3 separate regions of the Homo sapiens genome follow, and regions 2 and 3 are each reported to be linked to region 1. Evidence: microRNA targets listed by miRTarBase, many of them from high-throughput screens and not tested one by one. Region 1 holds a microRNA gene; each other region holds the end of a gene's coding sequence.

What was found. Region 1 holds the annotated microRNA hsa-miR-3672 (AUGAGACUCAUGUAAAACAUCUU, at 2,586-2,608, shown strand). A microRNA usually pairs through its seed, bases 2 to 8, with sites in the 3' UTR of a target mRNA and lowers its output. Matches are read on the target gene's strand: a 7mer-m8 pairs with bases 2 to 8, a 7mer-A1 pairs with bases 2 to 7 and ends in A, and an 8mer does both.
Region 2: the mRNA of FOXL2NB is a reported target of hsa-miR-3672. Seed matches in the 3' UTR shown: 7mer-m8 at 3,857-3,863.
Region 3: miRTarBase lists SH2D4A as a target of hsa-miR-3672. Seed matches in the 3' UTR shown: 8mer at 1,065-1,072.

What each region holds. Positions count from the first base shown.
Region 1 is chrX:121,368,401-121,375,598 of GRCh38, forward strand. MIR3672 (microRNA 3672) reads left to right here and starts at 2,572; the gene lies at 2,572-2,653.
Region 2 is chr3:138,949,189-138,956,386 of GRCh38, forward strand. FOXL2NB (FOXL2 neighbor) reads left to right here. Exons shown (of 3, transcript NM_001040061.3): 2 at 332-451; 3 at 1,077-4,802. The coding sequence ends at 1,384. Among named protein-coding and RNA genes, the nearest start is that of FOXL2NB, 5.6 kb to the left of the region's middle.
Region 3 is chr8:19,393,797-19,400,994 of GRCh38, forward strand. SH2D4A (SH2 domain containing 4A) reads left to right here. Exons shown (of 10, transcript NM_022071.4): 10 at 754-2,422. The coding sequence ends at 846. Among named protein-coding and RNA genes, the nearest start is that of SH2D4A, 84 kb to the left of the region's middle.

The sequences.
Region 1 (7,198 bases):
TCAATGTTTTTAAAAGTTGCGTATATGCATTCAATGCAATTCCTGTCCAAATACCAATGACGTTATTTACAGAAATAGAAAAAAAAATCCTAATATTTATATGGAACCACAAAAGTCCCAGAATAACCAAAGCTATTCTAAGCAAAATGAACAAAACTAAAGGAATCATATTACCTGGCTTCAAATTATACTGCAGAGCTATAGTAACCAAAACACTATGGTACTGGCATAAAAACAGACACATACATTAATGGAACAGAACAGAGAACCCAGAAACAAATCCACACACCTCCAGTGAACTCATTTTTGACAGAGGTGCCAAGAACTTATACTGGGGAAAAGACAGTCTTTTCAATAAATGGTGCTGGGAAAACTGGATATCCATATGCAGAAGAACGAAACTAGACTCCCATTTCTTGCCATATACAAAAACCAAATCAAAATGGATTAAAGACTTAAATCTAAGACCCCACACTATGAAACTGCTACAAGAAAACTTGGGGGAAACTCTCCAGAGCACTGGTCTGGGGAAAAATAACTCCTTAAGCAATACCCCACAAGCATAGGCAACCAAAGCAAAAATGGACAAATGGGATTATATTAAGTTAAAAGCCTCTTCACAGCTAAGGAAACAACAAAATGATGACACAACCCATGGAATAGGAGAAAATATTTGCAAACTACCTATCTGACAAGGTGTTGGTAACCAGAATATATAAGAAACTCAAATTCTGTAGAAAAAAAGGATATTAATTTGATCAAAAATGTGCAAGAAAATTTTAATAGACATTTCTCAAAAGGAGACATACAAATGCAAACAGGCATATGAAAATGTGCTCAACATCATTGATTATCAGAGAAATGCACATTGAAACTCCCATATGATATCATCTCACCTCAATTAAAATGGCTTATATCCAAAAGTCAGCCACTAACAAATGCTGGCGAGGATGTGGAGAAAAGGGAAGACTCCCACTCTGTTGGTGAGAATGTAAAATAGTACAACTACTATAGAGAACATTTTGGAGGATCCAACAATCCCACTGTGGAGCATATACCCAAAGAAAGGAAATAAGTATCTGCACTCCCATGTTTGTTGAAACACTGTTCCCAATAGCCAAGATTTGGAAGCAACTTAAGCGTCCATCAACAGATTAATGGATAAAGAAAATGTTGTACCTGTACACAATGGAGTATTATTTAGTCATTAAAAAGATCAAAATGGATGGAACTGGAGATCTTTATGTTAAGTGAAATGAGCCAGGCACAGAGAGACAAACATCACATGTTCTAATTTATTTGTGGGGTCTAAAAATCAAAACAATTGAACTCATGGACATAGAGAGTAGAAGGATGGTTGCCAGAAGCTGGGAAGGGTAGTAGCAGAGGACCAGGAAGGGAATGTGGGGATGGTTAATGGGTACAAAAACATAGAAAGAATGGGTACAAAAACATAGAAAGAACATAAGATCTACATTTGACAGTACAACAGGGTTACTATACTCAATAATAACTTAATTATACATTTAAAAATAACAAAAAGGTGCAATTGGATTGTAAAACAAAGGATAAGTGCTTGAGGGGATGGATTCCTTATTCTCCATGATGTGATTGGTACGCATTGCATGCCTATATCAGAACATCTTGTGTACCTCACAAATATATATACCTACTATGTACCCACAATAATTTATTTTAAAAATTAAAAATTATTAGCACAATAAATAAATTGAAGTGAAATATATATATGATATATTTTCAATCATCTCAAATTTGTTAGACTTGTTTTTTGGCCTTACATATTCTCTGTCATGGAATATTTTCTTTATACGCTTAAAAAGACTACATGTTCTGATGCTGTTGAATAGAATGTTCTGTATATGTCTGTTAGGTCCATTTGGTCTATAGTGTTGTTCAAGCCACTTGTTTTCTTACTCATTTTCTCTTTGGATAATCTGTCCATTGTTGAACATCGGGTATTGAAGTGGACTGTTATTTTATTGCTGTCTATTTCTCCCTTCAGTTCTGTTAATAAATACCTTATATATTATATTTAGGTGCTCCAATATTGCATACATAGATGTATTTACATTTGTTACATCTTGTTGATGAATTTACCCCTTTATCATGATATAATGACTTTCTTTGTCTATTGTGACAGTTTTTGACTTAAAGTCTGGTTTTTTTCTGATGTAAGTAAAATAAATGTAGCCAACTAAGCTCTCTTTTAGTTACTATTTGCATGGAATATCTTTTTCCATTTCTTCACTTTCATCCTCTCTGTGTTCTTAAAAGTAAAGTGAGTCTTCTTACTTAGCATATAGTTGGATTCTAATTTTAAAATCGATTTAGTCACTCTGTTTTTTTATTGGTAAATTTAATTCATTTATATTTAAATAACTTATTAATAGGTTAAGTGTTTATTATTGCCATTTTGTTAATTGCTTTCTGACATTTTGTCATTCCTCTATGTCTTTCTTCCTCTATTTCTGTGTACCTTTGTGATTTATTTCTGTAATGGTATGCATTGATTTCTTTTTTTATCTTTTGTGTATTTACTACACATTTTTTTCTTTGTGATTACCATGAGACTCATGTAAAACATCTTAGACTATTACAAGATGTTTTATGAGTCTCATGATAATCACAAAGATTACTATTAAAGCTGATAACTTTGAACATGTTAAAACAACCTTACACTTCAACTTTTTCTTCCCCCCATTTTATGTTATTGATGCCACACTTCATATCATTTATATTGTGTATACTAAAAAGTTATTATAGTTATTTTCATACCTTTTTCTTTTGACTTTTGTGCTAGAGTCAAACATGATTTATGTACCACATCATAACGTAAGAGTTTTTTTTTTTTTTTTTAACGGAGTCAGGCTGGAGTGCAGTGGCGCTGTCTTGGCTCACTGCAACCTCTGCCTCCTGGTTTCAAGCGATTCTCCTACCTCAGCCTCCCGAGTAGCGGGGACTACAGGTGTGGACCACCATGCCTGGCTAATTTTTGTGTTTTTAATAGAGATGGGGTTTCACTATGTTGGCCAGGCTGGTCTCGAACTCCTGATCTCGTGATCTGCCTGCCTTGGCCTCCCAAAGTGCTGGGTTTACAGGCGTGAGCCACTGCGCCTGGCCACATTAGAGTATTCTTAATTTGACTATGTTTGTTTTTTGGGAGTTTTCTACTTTTCTCTCTTTTTGTTGTTAGTGTCCTTTCTTTTCAACTTGCAGGCCTTTCTTTAGCATTTCTTGTAAGGCAGGTCTAGGGGTGTTTAATCCCCCTAGCTTTTCTTTGTCTGGGACAGTCTTTATCTCTACTGCATATCTGAAGGGCAACTTTGCCAGATAAAGAACTACTGATTAGCAGTTTTATTATTTTATCACTTTGTATATGTCATCCTACTCTTTTAGCCTGCAGGACTTCTGCTGCAAAATCCTCTGATACTCCAGTGGAAGTTGGTTTGTATGTGACAAGCCTGTTTTCTTTTGCTGCTCTCAAAATTCTCTCTTTGTCTTTGAATTTTGAGAATGTGCTTATTATGTATCTTGAAGAGGTGTCTTTATGTTTAATATATTTGGGGCTCTTTACCTTCGTGGATCTAGATGTTCACTTCCTTCAGATATGAGAATTTTTCTGTCATTATTTACTTAAAGAAATTTTCTGCCCCTCTTGTCTCTATTCTGTTGGGCCTCAAATAATGTGTATATTGGTCCATCTGATTGTGTCTCATAAATTCTGTATACTTTCTTCATAATTTTTTATTCTTATTTCCTTTTGTTGTTTTGACTGAGTAATTTTGAATAAGCTGTCTTTGAACTCACTGATTCTTTTTTTGTTTGAGTCTGCTGAGGAAGACATCTGTGGAATATATCAGTTCAGTCATTGAATCGTTGCGTTCTTTAGCTCCAGGATTTCTGCTTGGTTATTTTTTAATGTTTTTTTTTTTTTTTCTCTTTGTCGAACTTGTTGTTCTGCTCATATAATGTTTTCCTGATTTTGTTTGGTTGTTTGTCTATCTTGTACTTCGTAGTTTTTGTTTGTTTTTGTTTTTTGTTTTTTTGAGACAGGGTCTCATTCTGTTACCCAGGCTTGAGCGCAGTGGCATGAACACAGCTCACTTCAGCCTCAACCTCTGGAGCTCAAGTGATCCTCCTGCCTCAGCCTTCCAAGTAGCTGGGACAAGAAGCTGGGACTATAGGCATGTACCACAATGCCTGGATATATTTATATTTTTTTGAGATGGAGGCTTGCTCTGTCCCCCAGGCTGGAGTGCAGTGGTGTGATCTTAACTCACTGCAACCTCTGCCTCCCAGATTCAAGCAATTTTCCTGCCTCAGCCTCCCGAGTAGCTGGGATTACAGGCGCCCACCTCCACGACCAGCTAATTTTTGTGTTTTTAGTAGAGACAGCATTTCACCATGTTGGCCAGGCTGGTCTCAAACTCCTGGCCTCAAGTGATCTGCCCACCTCGGCCTCCCAAATTGCTGGTATTACAGGCATGAGCCACCTAAGTTTTAAATATTTTGTAGAGACAGTCTCACCACGTTGCCCAGGCTGGCCTTGGACTCCTGGGCTGAGGCAATCTTCCTGCATTGACCTCTCAAAGTGTTGGGTTTACAGGCGTGAGCCATCGTGCCTGGCCTCCCTGAACTTTTAAAGATCATTATTTAAAATTATCAGGCGTTTCATAGATCTCTATTTTTAAGGTCAGCTACTGGTACTTTATTCTGTTCCTTGGGTGGTGTCATATTTCTTTGATTATTCATGATCCTTGTAGTTTTGTGTTGGTATCTGCACATTTGAAAAAGTAGGCACCTCTTTCAGTCTTTACAGACTGGGTTTGGCAGGGAAGCTGACTTTACCAGTCAGCTTGGCTAGAGGGTCTTGTTGGGTCAGCAGATGGAATCCGTGTTCGGACTTGGGTCTGGAGTTCTTGGGCAGGCTGGCCTTGTTTTAGGGCCTGGTGCCTAGGTTCACTATAGCTGGCCTTGTGTACGGATCTGCAGGGCCAGGCCTTGAGCTCAAGCCTGTACAGGTAGGCCTGGTGTCCTGGTTCATAGGGTTGAGCCTGGCTCTGGGTACATGGGGTTCAACCTTGCAGGGAGGTAGAACTTGAGCCTGAGTTGGGGAGGGTCAGCTTTGTGTGGGGGTGTGCTTATGTTTTGGGTCCACAGGAGCCAGTCTGACACCAGAGTATGTCTGGAGTCTGAGACTGTGGGGTCTGGTTTGGACCTGGGTCATAGGGGCTGGCCTGAAGTCTGGGTCCACAGATGCTGGCCTAGAGCCTTGGGCCACAGGAACTTGCCTTGTGTTGAGGTTGGCCTAGGGCCTGGGTTCACAGGTGCCAGTCTGTGTCCATGAGGGCCTGCTGGGAGCCTGATGCTGTCTGGGCTGGCTCAACACTGGGTGGGCCTGAAGCCTTGTTCCACAGAGATGGGCCCGGAGCCTGTGGCTGTGGTAACTAGCTTGGCATTGGGGTGGCCCTAGAGCCTAGGTCCATGGGTGCTTGCCTGGTGCTGGGGTCTATAGATAAGGTGAATGCTTATCCACTGTCATTCTTCCATGTGGAGGATGTGTCTGTCCATGCTACACTGTGAGGGCTTTGGGGAGGGGTGGTGTGGTTATTTGTGTAACTGTCTCACACACCACATACCCTTTTCAATGCATTTTATTTTATTTCATTGCTCCACCCAGTTGCTGCAATCACTTACATAGATTCCTTAACTGTTGTGAAGGTACTTTCATGAGTGGGTAATTTTTCAAATTGATGCTTCTTTGAGGAGTCCAGCACTGGATGCTCATATTCCAATATCTTGCTTCATCACTCTTCAATCGTTTTCTTTTAAAAAATAGTAAATGTCATGTAATTTGGTTTGGGGAACTGACAGGCAAGTTCTAGCTGACTAATTGATGAAGATGCAGAAGAGGCTGGCAATTTACAATTTTGAAAATTTTAAATAGAAAAATCTTGATTGGAATAATTGAGTTAGGGCCAAATGCTCAGACTGTCACATGCAGAGAAGCATGAGTTCTGAAAATACATATATTTGACCCTTTTCTTTTTGTTTTGGCCTTCAGCCCTTCTACCTATTAGATGATGGAAGACTTTGGACACTTTGGTAACTTGGGATGGACTCTAATTTCAAATTGCTCTGATCTTAGACTAGTTTTCTTTTTGGATATGGTTTAATGTCTGTGAGCGCAATAAGGAAGTCATTGGCTTGAACAGATTTGTGGCTCGGTGCTGAGGAAAAGTAGAATTGTGGATCCATGCCCAGGATGGATGTGTAGGAACAAACAGTTGGTGGCTGTGAACAAAGAGAATAATTTTTTACAAGGGAGTATTTCTCAGCATTTTACATCCTCTAATTTGAAGACTTTAGGGTTTCTTTTTCTCTTTAATCATTTTAATTGCATTCTTCTTTTAAAAAATCAAAACGTAGATGAGACCAATAACTCCAACCTCAATTTTTATTGGCACACGCGTGTGTGTGCATGTGTGTGTAAGAGTTCATGTGCATACACATGCATGATCACAAAATAGGTTTTATTCTGTACACATTGTCTTGAAACTTTTTTCTTCACTTATCAAAATGTCTTGGTGCAATATTTATGCCATTGCGTGTATATCTAGCTCATTCCTTTTACTAGCTTTATATTATCCTATAATATAAACATTCTATATTTCATTTGCTATTCTTTTATTCATGGGCATTTTTGTTATCTTCAAATTTTCAATACTAAAAACAAGACCATAATCAACAATTCTGTGCATGGCCCTGTGTGCATAGATGCAAGTATTTCTATATGGAAGACACAGAGTTTACTTGCTAAGTACAAGCAATTGCAAATTTGCAAGTTGCTTTGGGTACAAACAGTCTTGCCAACTACATATTACTCAATTGGTCTCCCAAACCTTTCGCAGCATTTACTCCATATTCCACCCAAACCTTGACAAAATCAGTTTTTAATTTTTGCAAATAATAAGTAATAAGTACAGATGCTCCTCAACTTAAAATAAAGTTATGTCCTGATAAACCCGTTGTAAGTTGAAATTATTGTAAGTTGAACATGTATTTAATATGCCTAACTTAGCAAACATAATAGCTTAGACTAGCCTACCTTAAATATTCTCAGAACACTTGTATTAGCCTACAGCTGGGCAAAATCATCTGGCGACACAGTACACTA
Region 2 (7,198 bases), not on the chromosome of region 1:
TTCTCTCCTTTTTTTTTTTCTTGACCACCCAGGCTGGCTCTCTGCGTCTCTCTGTCTTTCTTTCTTCTTCTCACAGGCATTTCCGCTGCTCAGCCCTGCAGCAGCCAGGTGTAACAGCATTGTTGTGTGTGTCATCACTTCCCTGAATTCCACACTCGGCTCCCTTTTCAGCCTTTAAAGAGCCTGTGTGTGTATGCATGTGCGTGTGTGTGTGTGTGTGTGTGTGTGTAGGGGTTGGGGGCAAATGAAGGAGTTCCTCTGAAGGATTTTCAGAATAGAAAGGAGTTCTGCTCTGAAAATACTGATTTCTGACTGTCCCGTAGAGGAACAGAATCCCCAGCCCTGGTGAAGAAGAGGATGCCTGATGCGTGCACCCTGGGAAGGGCTGGAATCGGTCTCCCCAAGATGTGCCTTCACATGGCTGTCCGGCATTCGAAGGCTCAGAAAACAGGCAAGAAAATGCGGGCGGGAAAGCTGGCAGAATGATTACTTTCAGGTCCCCTCCAGGCTTCTGCGGAAAAGCCAGGGGCTTCGGGCTGGAGATAGAGGAATCTAGGGAGAGAACAGAATCCTCTCCTTGCCGGCCCAGCCAGAGGTGGGTGAACCGGGCGCTCCAGGAAACGGTGCGGGGCGCCCTGATTTACTTCTCAACCTTCGGAGGTAGGCTGGTTGCTGGCGAGGTCGGGATCCTCTCTGAACAGGGCATACTGTGCCTAGGTTTTGTGGACGCCAGGGCCGGTTCCTTTTCTCCCCGCGGCATTGGGGCGACGCAGGGCCCCCGGCTTAGTGACCTTGGGGCGGCGCTCACCTCCAAAGGCCAGGGTGGTGGGCTGGGCAGAACTCACTGCCTCTTTGCCCCAGTTTTCCAGGGTCCCGCAGCTGCAATTCAGCAGCCACCGGCGCCTCCTGACCGTGGTCCCACCGTAGCGCCGCCTGCGGATACGGTTCCAGTGAACCGCCGATTGAGCGCAGTCTCAGCTCCCGCGCCTCCTCGCAGCCTGGCCCCGCGCCTCGGAGGTCCCGACAGCCGGCGCGAGCAATCTACACGGCTCTGATACAGACGCTTTTCTCCCCAGGGCCGGGAATCCTGCAACAGCGGCAGAAGCCGCCCGCGCCTCGGGCTTCCGGCGGCCCAGCTCTACTAGGGAAGCGTCGCGGCTGCTCTGAGGCAGGCAGCGCTTCGCTAGAACCACTCAGCTCGTCCCGCGCCGCCGCCGGCTGCCTGAACCAGGTTCCGCTGTCCCCTTTCCTAGCGGGACCCCGAAACACCCGGCGGCTTCCCGCTCCTGAGCGGGAGAGAATAGAGCTTGCTGCAACCCTCTGCTTGGAGGGATGGCCTCTGCGGTGCTTGGCTAGCAAAGGGAAGCTTCACTGTGTCTATTAGTACATCCCCATACACTCCACGCCTCAACAACTGTCAGCACTCACTCCCTCCCGGCCCCTCACAGGGCCCTTTGCACCCACACCTCAGGGACTCGGTGTCCCTCCACTCAGGTCACGTTACTCCATCCACTTCTCTCTCCTTCTCCCTCTGTCAACTCCAAATCCCCTCTAGTTCTCCCTCCCCTCCTACTTCTCTCACACTCACCAGCTACACGTACTAATTCAGATTTTGCACATGTTGGTGGAAAACATGTCAAGCCAATGTGCAGACCCTAAGGCTTTTCACACGCTGCTCACTTTCGCATCTCACGGTGCAGAAGGACCAATGGGCTCCAGGTTTACAAGCCTGACTCCGAGAAGCCTGTTGATTCTCTGATGTCCTTGGCCTGTGATTCGGGTGACTGGGCTGCCACCTGGGTGTTTTCATGATGGGACTGCCGCACAGACCACAGAGAAGCTCAGGTACTGAGCACGTTCCAGATACACTTTAACATGCACAGGCCACTCACACAGGCTTTATCTCTGTCTCGAAACTCTGCTGAGTTTGCTGCTCAGACCAACAAGGTGCAGCAGCAGACACCCACATAGCACCAGGTCTGAAGCCAGTGGGTATTAGTCTGCCTGGTTGGGATTAGCAAAGTCAGTTACTCACATATGTGCTTGGGAGAGAATAGGGGAGTGGAGAGAGAGAGAGAGATATTGAGGAAGAGGAAAGAGAAGCGACCTCCTACTCTGGGAAGAACTCACACATGAGAGCTGTTTCCTGTTGTTAAGTGTCTCACTGAGCTCCCCTCTTTCTCCCCCAGGAAGGGCTTGAGAGGCAGTAGACCAGAGCTCTGGGCTCCTCTTTACCTTGCTGATGTTGGGGTATGAGTCCTCCAACACCATTTTGTCCCAAGGAGTATGTGCCCCATCGTCAATCAGGCAGAATGCAGGGCAGTTGTCGGCCTTTTTCATGGTGGAGGCCAACTGGGAAAAAGGCAGAAGGGTCTGGGTCCTGGGCCAAGTGAGGCCCTCTTCCCTCCAAAGACCCGTGGGATGCTCTCAGAGGCGGATTCTAGGGTGGTGGGAGCTGCTGACAAGTTTCCTCTGATATCCCTCATGACATCTATGGCCCAAAGCCATTTTGTTCAGCTCTGAACAGTGAGTGCCTTGCCAGTAGGCCTCAGGCTTGCTGGGGAACATGATGTGTTCTTAAAAGTTGCCTTGTTGCCTTTCTCCACACCCAGACTGTAAGCGCTGATGGGCAGAGACTCTGCCCTCCACTTCTCACTCAGTGCTCCCCACCAGGATGGGCTTAATGCCTTTTAATAGAATTAGAAAATGGTTCTGCTGGACAGAATTGGGAAATGCCACTTTCCTTATAATGAAGTTATAATGAAGTTAGAATTTCCAAGAAAGGGACTGTAGCTGAGGAAAAGCGGTTTGATCATTGACAGCCAGCTCAGGATCTGAGAGTTCTTTGCCATTTGGGGTTATTATAGCTGCATGGCCATGGTGCTGAACCTTAGGCAAGGGCAAGGACACCTCCCTAGTTCCCAGTCATGGTGAGGACCTGTCTGAAACATTCAAACTAGACTTTACTGGAAACAGAGAAGTCTCTGCATTCAGGGCAGCTGGCTTGCAAGGTAAGGCCTGCAGTCTCCACCCGCACGCTAACCCATGAGGGGATGCCAGAGAGAGCCCTTCCCCCTTGGTCCTCATTCCTGGCTCAATTTTCTCCCACAAAGCGGGCACTTTCTAAAGATGATAGGCAACTGCCATGGAGGAAGGCAGTTTTAGATGCCTAGCTGGCACAAAGTCCAGAGGAAGGGAGGGAGAAGGGCTGAGTTTTGTATTACTGTTCTACCTTTGGAGATTTTCCTCATGCCAAGATAGGGTGTGTGTGTGTGTGTGTGTGTATGTGTGTGTGTATGTGTGCACTATAACTTTATGAAACACTTTTTTTTTTTTTGAGACAGGGTCTCACTCTGTTGCCCAAGCTGGAGTGCAGTGGTGCAATCTTGGCTTACCGCAGTCTCCACCTCCCAGGCTCAAGTGATCCTCCCATCTCAGCCTCAGCCTCCCAAGTAGCTGGGACTATGGGTGTGAGCCAACACACTCAGCTAATTTTTTTTTTTTTTTTTTGGTATTTTTGGTAGAGACAGGGTTTTACCATGTGGGCCCAACTGGTCTTGAGCTCCTGAGCTCAGGGTGATTTGCCTGCTTCAACTTCCCAAAGTGTTGGGATTACAGGTGTGAGCCACCATGCCCAGTCAGTTTTTTATTTTTTATTTAAACAGTTTTGGGGGAACAGGTGGTTTTTGCTTACATGGATAAGTTCTTTAATGGTAATTTCTGAGATTTTGGTGCACTTGTCACCCGAGCATTGTACACGGTACCCAGTGTGTAATCTTTTATCCCTCATCCCCCTCCTACGCTTCCCCCCCCGAGTCCCCATTATATAATTCTTTTTTTCTTCTTTTTGAGACAGAGTCTCACTCTGTTGCCCAGGCTGGAGTGCAGTGGCATGAACTTGGCTTACTGCAGCCTCCTGAGTTCAAGTGATTCTCCTGCCTGAACCTCCTGTGTAGCTGGGACTACAGGCATGCACCACCATGCCCAGCTAATTTTTGTATTTTTTGTAGAGATGGGGTTTCACCATGTTGGCCAGGCTAGTCTTGAACTCCTAACCTCAAGTGATCTGCCTATTTTGGCCTCCCAAAGTGTTGGGATTACAGGCGTGCGCCACTGCGCCTGGTCCATTATGTCATTCTTATGCCTTTGCATCTTCATAGCTTAGCTCCCACTTATAAATGAAAACACAGGATATTTGGTTTTCCATACTTGAGTTACTTCACTTAGTATAATGGTCTCCAGCTCCATCCAGGTTGCTGTGAATGCCATTATTTTGTTCCTTTTTATGGCTGAGTAGTATTCCATGGTGTATATATATCACATTTTCTTTATCCACTCATTGGTTGATGGGCATTTAGCCTTGTTCCATATTTTTGTATGCAGTATAACTTACAGATGGTAAACAATATACAGCTTGATGTATTCTGACATGTAATGCAGTATGTAACCACCACCTGGATCAAGATATGGAGCATTTCTGGCACTTCAGAAGGTTCCTTCATATCTTTTTCCAATCAATATTGCCTCAAAAGGGAAACCATATTTGGATTTCTATCACCATAAATAACCTTTGCCTGCCTTGAGCCTCGTATAAATGGAGCATATAGCATGTATGCCTTTATGTCTAGTTTTTTCTGTGCAACATATTTTTAATATTCACTGGTCTTGTTGCATGTGTCAGACATTTATTTCTTTTTATTGCTGTGTAATATTCTAGTATTTGCTTATCCATCCATATGTTGAGGGACATTTGTTTCCAGTTTTTGGATATCATAAATAAAGCTGCTGTGCACATTGTTGTACATGTCTTTTTGTGAAGGGTATTTTACTACTCTTGAGTGAACTGTAGGAGTAGGCATATATTTAGTTTCAATAGATTCAGTCAAACAGTTTCCAAAGTGATAAAACCAAATACAGTGATATACAGATAGACAGACATACTTTAACAGGGCCTTTCCCTTATAGATAGCATTCTCTAAAAACCACTATTTAGCTGCACTTGTTATTACTGTTGTTATAAATGGAAAAAACAGCTTTTTTGTTTTTTGGTTTTTGTTGCACAAGGTCTCACTCTGTCACCCAGGCTGGAGTGCAGTGGCGTGATCGTGGCTCACTGCAGCCTTGACCTCCTGGGCTCCGCCTCCTGAATAGCTGGGACTACAGGTGCTCACTGCCGTACCCAACTAATTTATGTATTTTTTGTAGAGATAGGGTTTCGCTGTGTTGCCCAGGCTGGTCTCGAACTCCTGGGTTCAGACAGTCCTCCCATCTCAGCCTCCCAAAATACTGGGATTACAGGCATGAGCTACCACACCTGGCCAAAAAAATAGCCATCCTTTATTAAGCAGTTATTTTGTGCCAGGAACATTACATGCATTATCTCATTTCATTTTTATGAGAAACCTAAGGGATTGGTACTATTCCCATTTTACACTTGAGGAACCTGAGGCTCAGAGAGGGTGAGTAACTTGCCAAAGGCCCCTGGCTGATAAGTGACCACTTGACTGTGGGCTCTGAATTTCACTTCCGTACATGTACCTCTGTTTGTTCCCGTGAGGTCAGGAAGTTCTCCCTTCCATCTGAGCAAATCTAGCTGCCGGGTAAGAGACTCATTTCCTATCAACCTGTAGTCCTCTCTGCATACCTTCTCACACCTAGATTTGAGATCTGTGTACACACCCATATGCACACAGTTTCTCTCCCACAGCCACGCACACTCACTGTGAAGAAGAAGAGGATGGGGGCCAATTTAGTGAAGACTTCAGAGCTTGCCAAGTCCCGGGCTCAGCAACCTAATGGGATCCCTCTCGGAATTTGCAGAAGATTGGACTAAGATTGGACTAGGGACCAGCCTGTTTCTGGATGCTACAGAGGATAATTCAGAGGCTTTCCTTCCCTGGAAAGAGATGGGAATTTGGTCCTCCTCCCAGCATGCTGAGCCAAGCCCATGGTGGGCTTCAGAGGCTGATGCCTAGGGCATCCCTCTGCAAGGTTTGTCGACAGATGTTGCAGTTTGCCTTGGAAGGTGGTGAGTGGGGAGGATGAGTGTGGTCTGAGCAGGGAGAGAGCAGGAAGTCTGGGGAACTGCCCCTCTAGGCACAGTGCTTGACTAGGCCCTGCATGGAGTGGGCACTGCAGGAGGGAGAACCAGCAGCCTCCTCCTCGGGGCCATAGGTTACCAAATTTCCAAGTCTCCAAGCCCCTAAGCTTGACTGAGAGGAGTGTTGCTACTCTGTGGGTAGAGGCCATATGTGGGTTTTCTATGCTTTGCAGGTGGCCCCTCCTCAGGCCCCTTTCTAGACTAATTGAGGTCTTGCTGGGCTCTGGGTTTGTAATTGGGGGTAATTGCTGACAGGCTGTTGGGGTGGTACAAGCAGGTTTTTGTTGGGGAAGCAGTAGTCAGGATTTGGGGGCTTTGGGTGGGGACAGTCCAGGATCCCGATGTTCCCTATTCCAGGAAGCTCTTGTCCCTGGCCGTTTGCTTGGAGGCAGTACTCCTGAGGACCAGGGACTCATAGCATATCTGAACAGGAAGGGACCTCCTCGTGCAGGTGCTGGGAACTCAGATCCAGAGGCACACGGAAGGAGGTAGTGCAGCTGCAGCAGAGGTCCTGATGCCTGGCACTGTCATCTATGCACACCGCTGACAGGCTGAGAGGCACTGCCGTTGGGTGGCTAACAGACCTCTGTTCCAATTCCTACTGATATCAGCCTTGGAAATGATGGACGCTCGCCTTGCTTCAGAGTTTTAAATTTTTTAAAATCATTTTTTGAGTAGGCAATGTATTCACATGGACCAAAATTTAAAAATATAGAAGGCTTGCAGTGAAAAGTTTCTCTCCCACTTCTGTCCCCCAAGTCACCCTTCTCACAGGCAGCCAGTGACCCTGGTTTCACATATATCCTTCCAGACATAGTTTATGCACATACAAGCATACCCACATACATTCTTCTGCACTCCCTCAATTTTTGCCTATGGCAGCATTGAATGCACAGTGTTCTGCACCTTAGATCTTTCCACATCAATGCATTCTCTTTTTAGAGCTGCATGCTATCTATGTTGTTTCTGATCCTTTGCTTTTACAAGCAATACAGTACTGTATAAACTTGCATATATCTCATTTTGTAGGTATGTATATATATATTTATAAAAAGATTTCTGAAAGTGTAAGATTGGGTAATGGATATATGCACCTAT
Region 3 (7,198 bases), not on the chromosome of region 1:
TAAAAGCTGTACCCACATGGATCACATATGACAGCAATCCCCAAACTTTGTGACACCAGTTTCCTGGATGACAATTTCTCCATGGACTCAGTGTTGGGGGATGGTTTCAGGATGATTTAAGCACATTACATTGATTGTGCATTTTATTATTACATTGTTATATATAATGAAATAATTATACAGTTCAACATAGTGTAGAATCAGTGGGAGCCCCGAACTTGTTTTCCTGCAACTAGACAGTCCCATCTGGAGGTGATGGGGGACTGTGACAGATCATCAGGCATTAGATTTTCCTAAGGAGCGCACAACTGAGATCCCTCCCATGCACAGTTCACAATAAGGTTTGTGTTCCTATGAAAATCTAATGCTGCTACTGATCTGACAGGAGGCAGAGCTCAGGCGATAATGTGAATGACAGGGAGCAGATGTAAATACAGATGAAGCTTCACTCCACTGCTCACCTCCTGCTATACAGCCCAGTTCTAACAGGCCACAGACTGGTACTGGTCCATGGCCCTGGGGTTGGGGACCCCTGACCTATGAGAATTCATAGGCCTTAAGTTAGAATTCAAGCCCTGAAGGGAAAGGAGTACCTGGTCACATGTAGATAAGAAAAATGCCTTTTAAGATGATCATAAACCACAAAAGCTTTGTGTAAATCATGGGTAGGCAGCTAGTGATGTCCTCTGAGGAAGTAGGAAGAGCATGTGGTCACTACTTACACTATCTGACCCCGTGCCTTCTGATTGACAGGAGGAACCCATCACTTCCCTGGGGAAGGAGCTCCTTCTCTATCCCTGTGGTCAGCAGGACCAGCTGCCTGACTACCTGGAGCTGTTTGAGTGACAGCCTCCATCAGGGTCATCCTACAGCCTCCAAGCGGGCTTTCCCCTGGACAAATGCCACTGCAACATTTATGTGTGAAGCCAAAATCACCCTGCAGCAGAGCCAATACTGATCAACTGAAAGTAAAGTATCCATGGAGTCCTCATTGACACCTCTTTTCTGCACAAATACTGGAATTCAATGTCAAGAGAAAATGACCTCTGCTCAAAAGGGAGAAGAGTCTCAATTTCAGCAAGTACCTGTCATGAAGGGTATGACCTTAATGATGTACATAAAATAAAACAAATGAAGAAATGGAAAACTTTTAGAAATTAAGGTGTACTTGAAAACGAATATCTATCATATGACCCCTGCACTCCCTCTGTATCATCTCAGGAGGTTTCAGGGGCCTGTTGACATGAAGTTTCGAAGTTTCATGTTGGCTTTGGAATGGTAGCAAAAGCCTTTCCTGGCTGAGATGATGCTTAAAACACACCTCACTTATTGTACATGTTGGAACCAGGACATGAGAGACATAGAAAAACAGAAGTCATGAATGTAAATTGAATGAGAGGCTTAACATGCATGAAAATACAGATGGACCTGCAGGAAAGTGAGCAAACATCGCTGAGTTTGTTTTCTTGTTCGGGAGAATGGGGCCGGGGCTGGCCTGGCCTCCCCTGGATATACTCTATAGTGCACCAAAAGGATAAAGCATCTGTACATGTATTTTTTTATTTTTTATCAGAAGTGCTTAGACAAGAACAGAATAAGCAGGCTGTTTGGATGCTACTTGTGGTTGAATTGTGTTCCCCCAAAATATATGGTGAAGTCTTAACCCCCATCCCCGTGAATGGGACCTTGTTTGGAAATAGGGTCTTTGCAGATATAGTCAAGATGAGGTCACATTGGATTAGGGTGGGCCCCAAATCCAATGACTGGCATCCTTAGGAGAAGAGAGAGTTTTGGTAATAGACACAAATGCAGTGGGAAGAAGACCAGGGGACAAGAGGCAAGTTGGAGTGATGCAGCCGGAAGGGAAGGGACACCAAGGATCTCCGGCCACCAGCAGAAGCCAGCAGAGAGGCATGGGACAGGTTCCCCACAAGCCTTAGAAGGAAGCATGGCCCTGACTTCAGAATTCCAGACTCCAGAACTGGAAGAATAAATGTCTGTTGTTTTAAGCTGCTTAGTTCATGCTGAGTTCATGCTGACTTGTTACTATAGCCCCAGAAAGCTAATACAGTCGTTTATGTAATTACATAACCTGACACACAAGATCGACCCATTCACTGCTGCCCAGTCCACCATTTTCATAATGAAGTAGAAATGGGAGGTAAGAAAAACATTCCAGCCAGTTCTGTTTAGCCCTGGCACACATATTTGTCCCGTCAGGAATCTTATGCCCTCCTGGAACCCCCGCCCACCTCAGTCCAGTCCCAGTCAGGCGAACGGCCTCTGGACAGGGACTGAGGTGGCTCTGAGCCACTGGAGATCATTTTTCTTGGAGGATGGAGATTGGCTAGTACCTCTGGCCTAACTGTGTAGGTCAATACTCTTTTACATTGCCTTCTAATAAAAGCAGAATGATACAGCAGTGTTGTTACAAGCTTGTTGGTTGCGTACAGCACTCATTGACTATAAAATGTAGCCAGAGAAGGGGATGGTTGGCATGTGTGTTCTAATGAGAAAGATGATGGTGATTATTATTTTTAGAGACAGAGTCTTGTTCTGACACCCTGGCTGGCATGCAGTAGTGCGATCACAGCTCACTTCAGCCTCAAGCGATCCTCCTGCCTCAAACCCCCAAAGTGCTAGGATTATAGATGTGAGATACTATGCCAGGTAGAGATAGCTTTTAAACATAGATCATTGTTTAACTCTTTCTTGAAATGTTCCATGTGGTTTATATTGTTAAACTATTGTAAGGATCCATCTCTTGGCTTTTGTTCCTATGATTCAACAGTCATGGCATTATTGAGAAACTTCTCAACTCTTCCTACCATTTTCTGTATAATCTTGGACAGGACAGTTTGTCTCTGAGCCTCAGTTTTTGCTTCTGAACAAAAAAAAATATGATTCAACTGGGTGATCTTTGTTATTTTCATCCAATTCTGAAATTTTAAGGTTCTAGTGCTTCTCACTGGAATGAATGGAAAGTACCCACTTGTCACCACTAATAATTAGGAAGATGTAAGATTCCAGTACTGGCCAGGTGCAGTTGCTCATGCCTGCAATCCCATCAATTTGGGAGGCCAAAGTGGGTGGATCATGAGTTCAGGAGTTCAAGACCAGCCTGGCCAACATGGTGAAACCCCGTCTCTACTCAAAATACAAAAATTAGCCGGGGACGGTGGCATGCACCTGTAATCTCAGCTACTCTGGAGGCTGAAGCAGGAGAATTGCTTGAACCTGGGAGGCGAAAGTTGCAGTGAGCCGAGATCACACCACTGTACTCCAGTCTGGCTACAAAGCAAGACTACGTGCTGGGGGAAAAAAAAATCCAATACCCCCCTGTGCCTACAGTTATCTTGTAGGAAATAATTGTGGCCATATCCAGATATAACTACACAAAGCAACATCCTATTAAAGGAAGATTTAGAAAACAGGAAGTCACCCAACTGAATTCACCCAATATTACACAGGGGAGCAGATGTGGGTTCCGGACTAGTTTATCCTGTTGGTTGCTGATTGATAGAGGAATACACTGTCCAGTGTTGGATGATATGATGGCACGAATGACACTTGAAATTCTTAGGGAAGGAGAATGGTTTACAGATTTCAGAAACTGAATTCAACCGAATGGAATTCAGGAGGCCTGAATGGTCATCCGAGCAGTGCTGTGGTCTCTGTCCTGCCTACATTTACCCTGAGTTACGGTCTGAGGTGAAGATGTCCAAACTCTGACCCTGGTCTCCTCCTCCTGTTGCCTCTGCAAGCCCAGCTCCTTGACCTGCCTGCGCAAGGTTTCTGGGTCTAGGAATGCTGCTTTCATGTTACTGTCCTGGTTCTCAAGCCTAGGGGCTCTGGTCTGCAGACCCTGACTCACTGGGACTGTGGCCAAATACTCCTGCCCATCTAGATTCTTCTCTCCCACAATTCTGGAATCTCCCGCCCACAGTCATGTAAGATTTTCTGGCTGCCACCGTATTGCCAGATGCTCACAGACCTATCAGGTCACTTGCAAGGACCCTGCTTCTGGCCTCCTGCCCTACCCTGCTGCAGTAGGATGCACAAGGAAGGTCGCTTGGCCCTGAGTGTCACCAGCAGTGCTAGTCAGTCTGAAAAAGTGTTTTCTGGCTGGGCACGGTGGCTCATGCCTGTAATCCCAGCATTTTGGGAGGCCAAGGCAAGTGGATCACGAGGTCAGGAGATCGGGACCATCCTGGCCAACATGGTGAAACCCCGTCTCTACTAAAAAAAAAAAAAAAAAAAAAATACAAAAATTAGCTGGGCTTGGTGGCACATGCCTTGTAATTCCAGCTACTCAGGAGGCTGAGGCAGGAGATAGCTTGGGAGTCAGAGGTTGCAGTGAGTCGGAGGTTGCAGTGAGCCGGAGGTTGCAGTGAGCCGAGACCACTGCACTCCAGCCTGGTGACAGAGCAAAAGTCCGTCTAAAAAAAAAAAAGGTGCTTTCTGGCCCAAAGCTTACCCTAAAAATGGAGAAAACACAGGGCAAGTTAGGAAAAAAAGGATCAGAGAAAGAAAAAAGTAGATGGGCAATGGTCAGTCAGGTCACCAAAAATACCTCCGGGACATTTCCACCCAAAATTGCCTATCTGAGCTAATGCTTTGGAATTAAGCATCCTTTGCTAATATGACATGAAATCTGCTTTTAGATTAAAAAAAGAAAAATTCATGGCTTAAAGTTTTGCAACTGCCACCTTTTGTAAAGGCAGTTTTCTTAATGCACTGGAGTTCTAACATGTTTATGGCCCACACATACATATTTTGGGGCTCCTGCTATTTGGTGAGAGAAGACACAAATGCATGGGCTATGCATGGATATGTTTCCATGGGGCCTCTTTGCTTTCATATTTATCCAGAACGTGGTACATGCTTTCCTTTCAGGCTGCAATTCACAGGGTTTGTTTTGTTTTGTTTTAGAACATACGTTTTCAACGACTGTATCTTTAAATAATCTGTTTGAATTTAGCTTTTCTCTTCCTTGGGAATAGCTATAAATGTTGGATTTTTCTTTGCTTTTCATTTGGTATTCTCACCCCCATTGTTTTCATCTCTCCCTTCTTTTCTGTTGTATTTTGGGAGAGCTCTTGCATCTGTCCTTTTCCCATCAGTGATTAAATTTTCAGCAATGTTAATTCTGCACTTCACTGCCTCCAGGTGGATTTTAGTACCACTTTTACATGTCTAGCTACTTCCCATCCTACCTTCTCTCCCTATGCAAAGATCTTTAGGCTTCCCACTGCTTCCCCAGACTGACAATTGTCAGGAAGCTTAAATGATAAAAGTACCCTGTTTTAATTGTGGTAAAAACACATTATTTGATAATCAGGCTGCTCAGTATAGTAGAGAGCAGGCCCAGCAGGTTTGGGGTGCGGTCCTGGGTATACCATAACTAGCTGTGTGGAGTCGTTAAAGAAAAACAGTAACTAAGCCTGTCTGAGCTTCAATTTCATTTCTCAGACAGTCGTTACTAAAGTCACCTGGGTTCTGACGATTAGGAAAGAAATATGTTAAATATCTGGCATAGAGTAAGCGCTCCATGGGCCCAGCATGGTGGCTTATACCTGAAATCCCTGCTCCTTGGGAAGCTGACACAGGAAGACCATTTGAGCCCAGGATTTTGAGACCCGCCTGGCCCACATAGTGAGAACCCACATCTCTACAAAACATACAAAAATTAGCCAGGTGTGGTTGGCATGTGCCTGTAGTCCCAGCTACTCAGGAAGCTGAAGCCACAGGATCACGTGAGCCCAAGAGTTCGAGGCTACAGTGAGCTATGATTGTACCAATGCACTCCAGCCTGGGCGACAGAGTGAGACCCTGTCTTTAGAAAGAAAAAAAAAAGAGAGAAAAGAAAGCCAGCTCTCCATAAATAGTAATTGGGTAATTGCATTTTCCTTTTCCTAGTGAATTATGAGTCCAACAAAGCCAGGATCCTTGCACTCCAGCCTTCCCCTTTGCCAACTCAGTTTATGTGACCACTGGGCTGTTTATCCCCCACCCTTGTTTCCTAGAATTTCTGGGATCAATTTTAAGAAGGAAGGGGAAACTTCTGAAGAGTAAGGTATATAATGACGAACCACACAATACATTCATTTGCCAGTTGACCTGCAGAGAGTCGGCTCACTCTGTGCCGGGTGAGTCCCGGACGGAGGCTGCCATGGATGGCTGGCCCTCACTGAGTCCCTGGGGCGACTGTGGAGGCTGCAGAAGGGTCTTGAAGGAGCACAGCCCTACTTCTCTCCCCACAGCAATGCCTGCCCTTCCCAGCCTGTGACCTTCCCCAAGGCGGCTCTGCCCTGCCCCTCCTCCCCTATGGTTCTGTCCACCTTCTTGCTAGAATAGCAGATATGCCAGACACAGCCGAGGAGACACTCGGGGTGACTACTCCAGAGGGCATGTTCAAAGGATCAGTAATGCACAGTTTGAAAGGCACCTCTGCTGACAGGAAAGAACATATTCTGTGTGTTGGAAAAAACTACCATCAAAACCCCCCAACCAACTGGCACCATCCCCATAGTTTTTGGCAGCAACAGCAAAGCACGGAGCCCTGCCAGGAGAAACAGCTTTGAATTAAAATATAAAGCTAATCAGAATATGGATCACACAAAGCTGCCAGTCATTTGATGTGTGTGGGGAGTAAAACACCCCTGCCCTGCTAAGAAACTGCCCAAGGTCATTGTCTCTTATCAGCAATTCTCACAAACAGTTATCAAGTCTTTTTTTAAAAAAAGCAAGTATTCCCACCTGCTGTCCCCTCCTACTCAAATCATTTTTTCTTTTCTTTTTTTTTTTTTTTTTGAGATGGAGTCTCACTCTGTCACCCAGGCTGGAGTGCAGTGGCGCGATCTCAGCTCACAGCAACCTTTGCCTCCCGGGTTCAAACAATTCTCTGCCTCAGCCTCCCAAGTAGCTGGGATTACAGGCACCCACCACCAAGCCCGGCTAACTCTTTTTTATTTTCAGTAGAGACGGGGTTTCACCATCTTGGCCAGGCTGGTCTTGAACTCCTGACCTCATGATCCACCCGCCTCGGCCTCCCAAAGTGTTGGGATTACAGGCGTGAGCCACCGCGCCCGGCCATCACTCTTTCAATGTAACATGTTGGAATCCTGCATGAGAGCCAGATTCCAGGGCTTTGATCCCATATGGAGTCCTAACACTGCCGGTCATTGCACAGTGGCTG